Regions from separate parts of the Homo sapiens genome. Here region 2 is linked to region 1. Evidence: fine-mapped expression QTL. A gene starts in region 1. The other region holds a variant in brackets. All regions are shown on one strand. Distances are between the middles of the regions. Region 1 holds the start of SLC9A1 (solute carrier family 9 member A1). Region 2 overlaps SLC9A1 (solute carrier family 9 member A1).

Region 1 (5,366 bases):
GCCAAATTCCCAAACCCAAATCTCAGGCAGAGGGGACAGCAGAGTCCCAGGACCTCATGCCTTCCACAGCCAGCTGGGGGCAAGCTGAAAATGCAAAGGCAGTTGTCAAAGTCCCCCTGAACACCACTTTCAGGGACTTCTGGGCAATGTAGGCTCCAGTAAGCTCCCCCAATCACTCAGCAGAACAGAGTGCTCAGGCCTAGCAGGGAGACCAATACTCTGAGAGCAAATAAGTTGTCTGTTTCCTTCTCCCCAAAAGAAGGTTTCAAAGTCTCTTCAGGCCTGAACATCCCTAGGCTCCCCCATCTACCTCATCTACTTGATTGAGCAGCAGGCCAGACAGCACCCTGAGACACAGCCAGGCAGCGACCTGGGGGTGAGCTGGGGTCAGACCAAGCCTCAACCTCCTCTACTCTCCCTCCACTTCCAAAACAGACTTCAGAAATTTCCAGGGCCCCTTGTCCCACAGATTCTATAAAGTATGGCATTCCTGGGCCGGAAATTGACTCAGGGGCTCCTAACTAGCCTGGACAAGCAAAGCTGACAGATAACATTCTGGAGATGAAGGAAAGGTGGGAATATGGGGATCCCCTGTGTTCCACCACACTTGTAAGTTTCCTGTGCCCAGGTCTCCACTATGCTTAAACTCCTCAAGCAGGCCAAGTAGAAATATACTCCATCCTGGAACACGCTCCAGTGAAGCCTGTCATAAATTGCACTGGTTGCTGTTGACAGAGCAGAATGTGCCACTCGCCAGAAGACACTCCTTTCTGTCTCACACACAGCGGGGTGCCTGGCTCCCCTGGGGGTCTGGCCCAGCCAGAGGAGACTTGCCAGTCGTGGAAGCCTTACTGAAGGGACCTAGGATCAGAGGCATCCCATTCTCTAATCCTGCTCTCTTCTGTGCACAGTGCTGGCTCCAATCTTGGGAAGCCTCAGATCACAGATCAGAAGCCACAGAACTGGAGCCTGAGAAGGACCAAGGTGGCAGGATGGAGACTGCCTACTTTATGGGGGTAGTTCAGATCCTTACTCCTGGACAGCCTCAAATGGTGCGAGATGAGGCAAGAAGCTCACCAGTCTGGTGGCGGCCGCAGCATCGGAGCAAACGGGACTTACCTATCTTCATGAGGCAGGCCAGAAGGATCCAGAGGGAGATCTCGAAGGGGGTGCGCACGTGTGTGTAGTCGATGCCCAGGACTGGAAAGGCCTTGCGCGGCTTCATGCCATGATCAGTGACGGAATGATTAACAGGGCGGCTCTCTGGGGTGACCTCCGGTGGAGCGGTGGTGACATCCCCAATCGAGCGTTCTCGTGGTGGCTCTGAGCTTCGAATGGTGCTGGCAGTTGGGCTGAGCTGGAGGCCATGGCTCCTGAGAACAGGCAGCAGCCCCACCAAAGCAACCACCACGAGTAAGGAAGGGAAGATCCGATGTGGAGAGAGGCCACAGATGCCAGACCGCAGAACCATGGTGCTGCTTCCAGAGCCAGCCTCGACCTTACCCAAATGAGAGTAAAACCGGGCACATAGGTAGCAAAGGGTCAGCAAGTGGGAAGAGAGACTGGCGTAGTCTCTAGGAAAAGTTCATGTTTTAGAGAGGCATTTCCATGGAAGCAATTTTCTGGGGGTGGAGGGAGGCTGGGTTTGCAATCTGGAACTCCAAAGTGGGGAAAGGGGGCAAGGACCCAGGAACGACCACGAAAGGAGACCAAAAGGTCTGGAACTCCGGGCCTGGGAAGGGGGAGGACGGATGTGGGAAACTGAGCCCTAGGGATAGAGGAAGGGGCAGGATAGGGATAGTGCAAAGGAAAGGAAGAAGGAAGGCTGGGACCTTTGGCTGAGGAAAGTGACTGAGGAGCTGGGACTCTGGGCTGTGGGCTAAAGGAAGGGGTAGGGAGCCTGAGCTAAAGGAAGGGGACCGAAGGGGGTGAGAGCCAGTCCAGGAAAAGGAGAGAGGGGGCTGGGAGCCCAGGCTGAGAAGGAGTGAAACCGGGAAGCGGCCGGGAGCTTCTCCACCCAGAGAGGGGCAGGGGTCCAGGCGCGCCGGGCTGAGATTCCGGGGAAATGGAAAGAGGCGGAAGGCAGGCGGCCTGGCGGGAAGGCGCCTCGGCGCGGGCTGGGGGCGGCTCGCGGTGGGCCAGCAGCAACACGCCCCTCCTCGCGGCCCTGGCGCGACGCGGCGCTCCGCCCCGGCCCAGCTGCAGCTCCTCCTGGTCCAGCTCCAGAACTAACCCTAGCCCCGGCCCCGGCGGCAGCAGACTGAAGCCTAGCTGAGCCCGGCGCTGTCACTTATAGGCACCAGCGAGCAGCCGGTGCGGCGGGCTAGAGAGACCGTCGGCACCCGCCCAGCGCAGCGGCCCCTGTCGCCGAGGGAAAGAAGTATCGCGTAGGAAGAGGAAGGAGAGTCAGAGATGACAAAAAAAAAAAAAAAAAAAAGTCCTGAATATACAGAGAACCTCACTAACGCGAGTAAAATGCCGACTACTTACAAAACGATTTCACGTCCACATCTGCAGTCTCATAAGGGCTTTCGAATAATCCTGTGAAGAATGTATTATTAGTTTATGTATTTAGTTACCGTGTGACCTTGAGCAAGTTACTTAACCTGTTTCACAACTTTCTCATCTGTTAAGTAGAGACAGTAATAGTGACTATGTCAGAGGGATGATGTAATGACTGAGACAATCCGTGTAAACTATTTGGAATGCACCCTGGCACATTATTACAATTCCACTTTTACAGATGAGGAAACAGGTGAAGAGAGTCCCCTGGCTACTATGCAAGTAGTTGTATTGCTTACTAGGGCTGCCGTAACAAAGTATCACCCCAAACTGGGTGGCTGCAACAACAGAAATTGATTGTCTCACAGTTCTGGAGGCTGGAGGTCGGATCTAGGTGTTGGCAGGGTTGGTTTCAGCTGAGAGCTATGAGGGAGAATCTGTCCCATGCCTTTCTCCTACCTTCCAGTGGTTTGTTAGGACTATCTGGTATTCCATGGAGTTCTCCTGGTGTCTCTGTCTCTGCGTCCAGATTCCCCGCCCACACTTTATTTTTATTTTTATTTTTTTTGAGATAGAGTCTGGCTCTTGTTGCCCAGGCTGGAGTGCGGTGGCGCCATCTCAGCTCAATGCAACCTCTGCCTCCTGGATTCAAGCGATTCTCCTGCCTCAGCCTCCAGAGTAGCTGGGATTACTGGCACCCACCACCACGTCCAGCTAATTTTTGTATTTTTAGTAGAGATGGGGTTTCACCATGTTGGTCAGGCTGGTCTCGAACTCCTGACCTCAGGTGATCCACCCGCCTCGGCCTCCCAAAGTGCTGGGATTACAGGGGTAAGCCACAACCCCCAGCCAGATTTCCCCTTTTTATAAGGACACCAGTCATTGGATTAGAAATCCAACGTAATTACCTCATCTTAACCTGAACATCTTCAAAGACTGCATCCTAATTAGTCCATCTTCATAGGCACTGGGCATTAGGACTTCAACTTCTTTTGCCGGGACACAATTCAACCCACAACAGTGGCATGCTTTAAGTAGTGGAACTTAAATTTGAACCTATAGTTTGGTTGAAATTGGTGAGGTTCAAGGGATCATGGCTGTACAATGGAATCACTGGAAAGCTTTTTTAAAATACCATTGTCTAGGCCGGGCGTAGTGGCTGACGCCTGTAATCCCAGCACTTTGGGAGGCCGAGGCGGGCGGATCACGAGGTCAGGAGATCGAGACCACGGTGAAACCCGGTCTCTACTAAAAATACAAAAAATTAGCCGGGCGCAGTGGCGGGCGCCTGTAGTCCCAGCTACTCGGGAGGCTGAGGCAGGAGAATGGCGTGAACCCGGAAGGCGGAGCTTGCAGTGAGCGGAGATCGCGCCACAGCACTCCCGCCTGGGCGACAGAACGAGACTCCGTCTCAAAAAAAAAAAAAAAAAAAAAAAATTAGCCGGGCGTGGTGGCACATGCCTGTAATCCCAGCTAGTCAGGAGGCTGAGGCAAGAGAATCACTTGAACCCAGGAGGCGGAGGTTGCAGTAAGTCAAGATTGCACCACTGTACTCCAGCCTGGGCAACAGAGCGAGACTCTGTCTCAAAAAAAAATAAATAAATAAAAATAAATACCATTGTCTGATAAAATTAGCTGTGCTTGGTAGTCCTAGCTGCTTGGGAGGCTGAGGCAGGAGTATCATTTGAACCTAGGAGTTTGAGACTACAGTGAACTATGATCCACCACAGCACTCTAGCCTGGGCAACAAAGGGAGACCCTGTCAATCATAGTAATCATCATCATCATCATCTTTTGTAAAATATCATTTTCGGGGACCCACCGTCAGAGATTTAGATTCAATTACTTCAGGGTAGTGCCAAAGTATTTTTTTCAAAGGCTCTGATATACAACTAGGGTTGGGAGGTATAGAAATCACTGAAATGCTGTCCCTGTTTTGCAGAAGAGTACATTAAGGCCAAAACAGTCAAAGTGTCTAGCTCAAGGTCACATCACAAGTACTTGAGATTCAATTTAGTTTAACAAATGTTTACTGGGCCTCTTGACAGGGCTTTGTGCTGGGCTCTGGCAACACAGAGATAAGCCAGAGGGAGGAAGGAGGTGGTAGGAATTGGGAGGGGGCATAAAGTGGACATAATGAGGGCTTCTAGAATGCTGGTAATGTTCTATTTCTTTACTGGGTGATAGCTACAAAGGTTACAGCGACGTAGTTGTTTCGTGATAACTCACTGAAGACTCAAGATGTGTGCACCTTTTTCTAGGTATGCTATCCTTCCATGGAAAAATATATTAAAATAATAATAAGCTAGCAGCAGTGGCTCATGCCTGTAATCCCCGCAACTCAGGAGCCTGAGATGGGAGTATCAGTTGAGGCCAGGAGTTTAAGACCAACCTAGGCAACATAGGGAGACCCTGTCTTTAAAAAAAATAAGTAAAATAAAATAATAATATCCAGGTGCAGTGGCATGCACCTGTAGTCCCAGCTACTTGGGAGGCTGAGGCAGAAGAATCACTTGAACCCAGGAATTTGAGGCTGTAATGCACTATGATTGTGCTTGTGAAATAGCCACTGCACTCCAGCCTGGGAAACATAGTGAGACCCATCTCTAAAAATTAATTAGGCCAGGCACAGTGGTTCACGCCTGTAATTCCAGCACTGTGGGAGGCTGAGGCAGGCAGATCACTTGAGGTCAGGAGTTCAAGACCAGCCTGGCTAACATGGCAAAACCCTGTCTCTACCAAAAAATACAAAAATTAGCTGGGCGTGGTGGAGCATACCTATAGTCCCAGCTACTTGGGAGGCTGAGGTGGGAGAATCCCCTGAACCCAGGAGACGGAGGTTGCAGTGAGCTGAGATTGTGCCA
Region 2 (5,366 bases), 37 kb before region 1:
AATCTGAGCATCTAGTTGTATGTTGGGTACTATGCTCCCAGGGTTGGCATAGCCAAGAGGGTTTGTCCCTTTGCTCAAGAGGAAAGCTCTCTCTGGCCTGGCATGGTGGCTCATGCCTGTATCCCAGCATTTTAGGAGGCTGAGGTGGGAGGAACACTTGAGGCCAATAATTTGACACCAGCTTGTACAACATAGGAGACCTCATCTCCACTTAAAAAAAATAGCTGGGCATGGTATGCACCTGTAGTCTCAGCTAGTTAGGAGGGCCGAGGCAGGAAGATCACTTGAGCCCAGCCTCAAAAAAAAAAAAGAAAGAAGAAAGCAAAGCTCTCTCTCCTCCCCTTCCCTATCTTGCAAGCTCTGTGCAGGCAGATCCCATAACTGCTTATCATTATACACCCAGGGCTAGGACACAAGAAGTGCTCAACAAATATCAGCTGACTTGAAAATACACAGGGCTGGGACATCACCCAAGATTTCCGATAACCTGCATGCCTGGCCAGGCCTCTGCTCTCATTACTTACTCTTGAGATCCTTGGGACAGAGGAGGAACTTCCCTCTCCATGCCCAAAGCCCTTCCTACTCTCAGGTAGGAATCTGGGCAGTGCTAGTACGGTGACAAGTCAAAGTTCACACTGCTGGCTGGGCACGGTAGCTCACGCCTGTAATCCCAGCACTTTGGGAGGCCGAGGTGGGTGGATCACCTGAGGTCAGGAATTCAAGACCAGCCTGACCAATATGGTGAAACCCTGTCTCTACTAAAAATATAAAAATTGGCCAGGCGTGGTGGTGGGTGCTTGTATTCCCAGCTACTTGGGAGGCTGAGACAGGAGAATTGCTTGAACACAGGAGGTAGAAGTTGCAGTGAGCCGAGATCACGCCACTGAGCTCCAGCCAAGATCACTCCACTGCACTCCAGCCTGGGCAACAGAGCAAGACTCCATCTTGAAAAAAAAAAGTTCACACACTGAACACTATCCAGGCCCAGAATCCTGGCACAGTGCCAAGCACCCTGAAGACACTCAAAACACATTGGGAAAAAAAGATGTCTCCATCCTAGGCCAAGAGGACCTCGAAGGCACCATGTGCATTCTCCTGATTTCAAAATAGACATGACCAAAAGTCACTTTTTGTTCATCTACTTCCCACATCAATAAAAGGGAAAATAATTCCAAAATCACCCCTTTTGCTGAAAAGTCCCCCAGTCTTTGTACTGTCCACCAGTCAACATCCAGTGTGTAGCTGGCTGGTCCACTGGGAAGGGCTAGTCATGTTGGACCCAAGTCTCTCTTGCTGTAGAGGATAAAGCCCACATTTTCAGCACTGCCTCTGTCATCTGCTCTTGCCTCATGTCCCATTCTCCCCACTGTCAACTCTTAGGTTTCAGCCTTGCCAAATTCCTTGCAATTGCCCCATATGAGCCACATCCTCTTTTGCCTGCCAATCTTCACCTAGTCTAGTTCCTCTCTCTAGAAATCATTCCTCTACCTCTACCCCCACCATATGTGGCTGACACCATATCCTCTGCCTGCCTCCTCCTTCAGGAAGCATTCCCTGACCACCACCTGTCTGCTCAGGTTAGGGCAGGAATCTTCTGGTGCTTCCCTCTCTCATAACCTTCAATCCACAGTCATCTCCCAGGTTCCTCTCTCTCTTCCTGGCACCCACCGAGATCAGTCAGACAACCCAGGCAGAAGCAGCTGAGACAAGACAATGGCATCAGACCCCAAAGACCTGCAGTGTGCTGGAGGGGAGACAGGCACAGCGCAGCGGAGATAAGCAGGATGAAGATTTAGGGGAGCAGAGCTCCTACAGGCAGGGGCCAGAAAGCACCTTCCCAAGGCCGGAAGTCCAGCTCCAGCCAGCTGCATGCTGACCCCCCTCCACAGCCTCCCTGCCCCTGTCCTGGCGTTAGCACCAAGAGCTGCCTTAAGAGAAGGCAGAGTCTAAAGAGATAGTCCAGGGTAGGCAGATGATGGCTTCCACCTCCACCTAAGGGGTCGGGCTCTAAAAATGCCTCCTACCCTCACTCTGTGCCATCAACCCAATCCACAGAGCTTTCCTGGCCCCATAAATCGCCAGACAGTGCCTGGGAGACCCAGAGAAGAGTTGGCCACAGCTCCTGCCTGGGGAGGGGGCAGGCATGTGAAACAAGCCAAGAACAGCAACATGAAGACGGCTCCTCAGGTCTGAGGGCGTCCCATGAGCCAGAACTGTGCTGGGAGCCTGGCACGCACCATCTCATTCAGTCCTCACCACAGCCCTTGGGATAGGTATTGCCTCCATTTTGCAGAAGACAAAGCTGAGGCTCAGCAAGGTTATGCCACTCCCCTAGTGTCTAAGGGAGGACCTCTATTCTAGCTTAGGTGTCTCAAACCGGTAGCAGAGAGCGCTAATTAATTCTTTAGTCAAAGCTCGGTATTTTCTCTGAGCCAGGCCATATGGGACACTGGGAACATTGAGGTGACTCAGACTCTGAACCTCCGTGAGCAGCTGATGGGGAGGGCCATGCTATTCCAGCCCTTGGAGCTTCTATGACCAGGTGAACAGAGAGCTGGCATTCCTATTGAACACAAGAAAAACGAGCTCTGAGAGGAGGCTGCATGCACTCAGCCAGGCCAACCAGGACTGGGTCCCGGGCCTCCTGACTACAGCACAGCGACCTCCTTCTCCTTCAGCCAGCTCCAGAGTACCTGGGGCTGGAGCCATGTTCCTGGAGCTGGTTTCCCTGGCTTTCCTGTTTTGTCTCTGGCGCTCAGTGAGCTGAAGGAGCTCTAGGCCCTGATGGGCTCTCTGGGCCTGAGGGGAGGGCCGGGCCGGGCCAGGCTGAGGAGAAAGGTCTGAGATCCACTTTTGGCTCCCTGCCTGTGGGTAGGTGGCACATTATTGGAAAGCACTTCTAGGGCTGGGGGAGGAAGGGATTCTGTCATCAAGAGGAGGCTCCTTCAGGAGCAACGGCTCAGGGAAGTGGGAAGCAGCCCCTGGACCTGCGCTGGCTTGTCCCTCTCCTAACGCCCTGACTCCACCAACTGCGCTCACTCTGCATCCCTGCAGAGTCCCCACAAAGAGCAGGATGCTTGCTGACACCC[G/C]GTGTGGTGAAAGGGGCACAGAAGGATGGCTGCGGCCCCTGGTACCCTGACAAAAGCCCTGCATGGAGGCAAGATCCCAGGATGCCAAGAGATGAGGCAAAACTTTCAGGGCCCAAACATGCAGCAGCAGTGATGTCACCAGGGTGAAATCAGGGATGGGAAGAGGCAGTTAGAGTAAGAACCAGAGTCGTAAGAGCTGGAATGGATCTTGGAGAGCATCTAAATTCTCCATTATATAGTCAGGGAAATGGAGACAGAGACAGCCAGTGACCTGTCAATGATCACATGTCCAGTTCTACCCCAGCAGTCTGTGACACTCCAAGCCACACAGCCTTCTTCGAGGACGTCCAGTCCTCCCAGAACAAGGAGGCACGAAAGTGTGGAATTCAACATCTCCAAGCACAGCCACAGGCCAAACCCTCTGACACAGTTCAGAGTTGGCGCTCCTTTTAGAAGAGGCTGGGGGATGGGAGAAGTGTTTTTCATTCTATCTAGTGTAGGTGGTAGCTGGAACGAACACACACACACACACACACACACACACACACACACACACACACTCTTGCTGAGCAGACACCTCACCAAACTTCCAATTGATGGAGGCTCCCAGCCCCCTGCGGCTGCTCTGCACCACAAGAATGTTTTATTTATATCTCCTCGGACGGTCCCCATCTGTTGAGACTGGCTCAGTGGAGCAGGCAAGGCTGTCCGACATCACCCTGGGTTGCCAGGGTGACCAGACATGCCTGATCCCCCTTCCCGCAACCCTCCTCTGGCCTGGGAAGTCAGAGGGGAGTGCTGGGAAGAGGGGTCTCTTTGGCCCATAGTGCCAGGTCACCAGGGACCCAGGGGCACACTGAGGGCTCTGTCGCCCTACTTCCAGGCCTGAGGACTGCTCTGGGGCTGCAACTCGGCCAGGTCCCAAGGGATTCCTAGTTGCACAATGATTCCATTTCTTTAACTCCCTCTTCAACTGCCCCAGCAACCAGTCTCAACTGCAGCAATGAAAGGTAATACTTCCCAATGAAAGCCCAGCACTCTACAGTTTACAGCGGCACACTCTTAACCCATTTGCTCTCCACCATAGTTCTGGGAAGTCACAATTACCATCCCCTTATTTTACAGATGAGGAAACTGAAGCACACAAAGGTTAAGCAACTTGATCAAAGTCACATGGCTGGTAACTGGGATTCAAACCCAGGTAGTCTGGCTCCAGAGTCTGTGTTCTTGGCCACTCACTGTATTATCCCTGGCTTTATTCTTACTTTGTTTCTAAGGGGCGTGTGAGCCTAGGACTAAAGAGGCCCAAAGCAGTTCCCAAAGGGCCAGCGGTAGGTTTTTCTTTCCATGAGCTCTTCTCCAGGAAGTCTCCCACTGCTTCTACTCTAGTGGCCTAGTAAAGACTTCATGAAATCCTTCCTATCTTCAAAGGCTGCCCTCTCCAGGAAGCTCTCCTAAGTTAACTCAGCCAGGAGGGGAAGGTTGCAGTGAGCCAAGATTGCACCACTGCACTCCAGCCTGGTGACAGAGCAAGACTCCACCTCAAAAAAAAAAAGTATTATTCATTGAGTTTCTGCTGTGGGGATGGGAGGTTTTTTTTGTTTTGTTTTGTTTTGTTTTGTTTTGGGGGGGCGGAGTCTCACTCTTGTTGTACAGTGGCGCGATTTCGGCTCACTACAGCGTCTGCCTCCCGGGTTCAAGTGATTCTCCTGCCTTAACCTCTCCAGGGGCTGGGATTACAGGCACCCACCATGGCGCCTGGCTAATTTTTGTATTTTTAATAGAGGAGGGGTTTCGCCATGTTGGCCAGGCTGGTCTCAAACTCCTGACCTCAGGTGATCCACCCACCTTAGCCTCCCAAAGTGCTGAGATTACAGGCGTGAGCCACCGCACCTGGCCAAATAATACTTTTTTTAAAATGTAGCAGCCAGCTGGGGGTGGCAGCTCACGTCTGTAATCCCATCACTTTGGGAGGCCGAGGCGGGTGGATCACCTGAGGTCAGGAGTTCTAGACCACAGTGACCAACATGGCGAAACCTCGTCTCTACGAAAAATACAAAAATTAGCCAGGTGTGGTGGCAGGCGCCTCTAATCACAGCTACTCAGGAGGCTGAGGCAGGAGAATCACTTGAACCTGTTAGGCAGAGGTTGCAGTGAGCCGAGATCACACCATGGCACTCCAGCCTGGGCAATAGAGCAAAATTCCATTTCAAAAAAAAAAGATAAACTCTCCAGCACCCAGGAGACAAACACTGGACACTTGGAGAATCTGATGCA

Evidence for each region.
Region 2: its variant is fine-mapped to the expression of SLC9A1 in whole blood (INTERVAL, PIP 0.92).

Annotation. Positions count from the first base shown.
Region 1 is chr1:27,152,864-27,158,229 of GRCh38, forward strand. It overlaps SLC9A1 (solute carrier family 9 member A1), which reads right to left and starts at 2,262. Exons shown (of 12, transcript NM_003047.5): 1 at 1,120-2,262. The coding sequence starts at 1,471. It overlaps LOC102723760 (a long non-coding RNA gene), which reads left to right and starts at 4,698. Exons shown (of 3, transcript XR_426674.4): 1 at 4,698-4,763. RefSeq lists a silencer at 1,982-2,211 and an enhancer at 3,157-3,656.
Region 2 is chr1:27,115,438-27,120,803 of GRCh38, forward strand. The region is part of intron 1 of SLC9A1 (solute carrier family 9 member A1); the gene reads right to left. Among named protein-coding and RNA genes, the nearest start is that of SLC9A1, 37 kb to the right of the region's middle. RefSeq lists enhancers at 1,525-2,236, 2,947-3,657, 3,658-4,367. The variant G/C (reference allele first, on the strand shown) is at 3,090.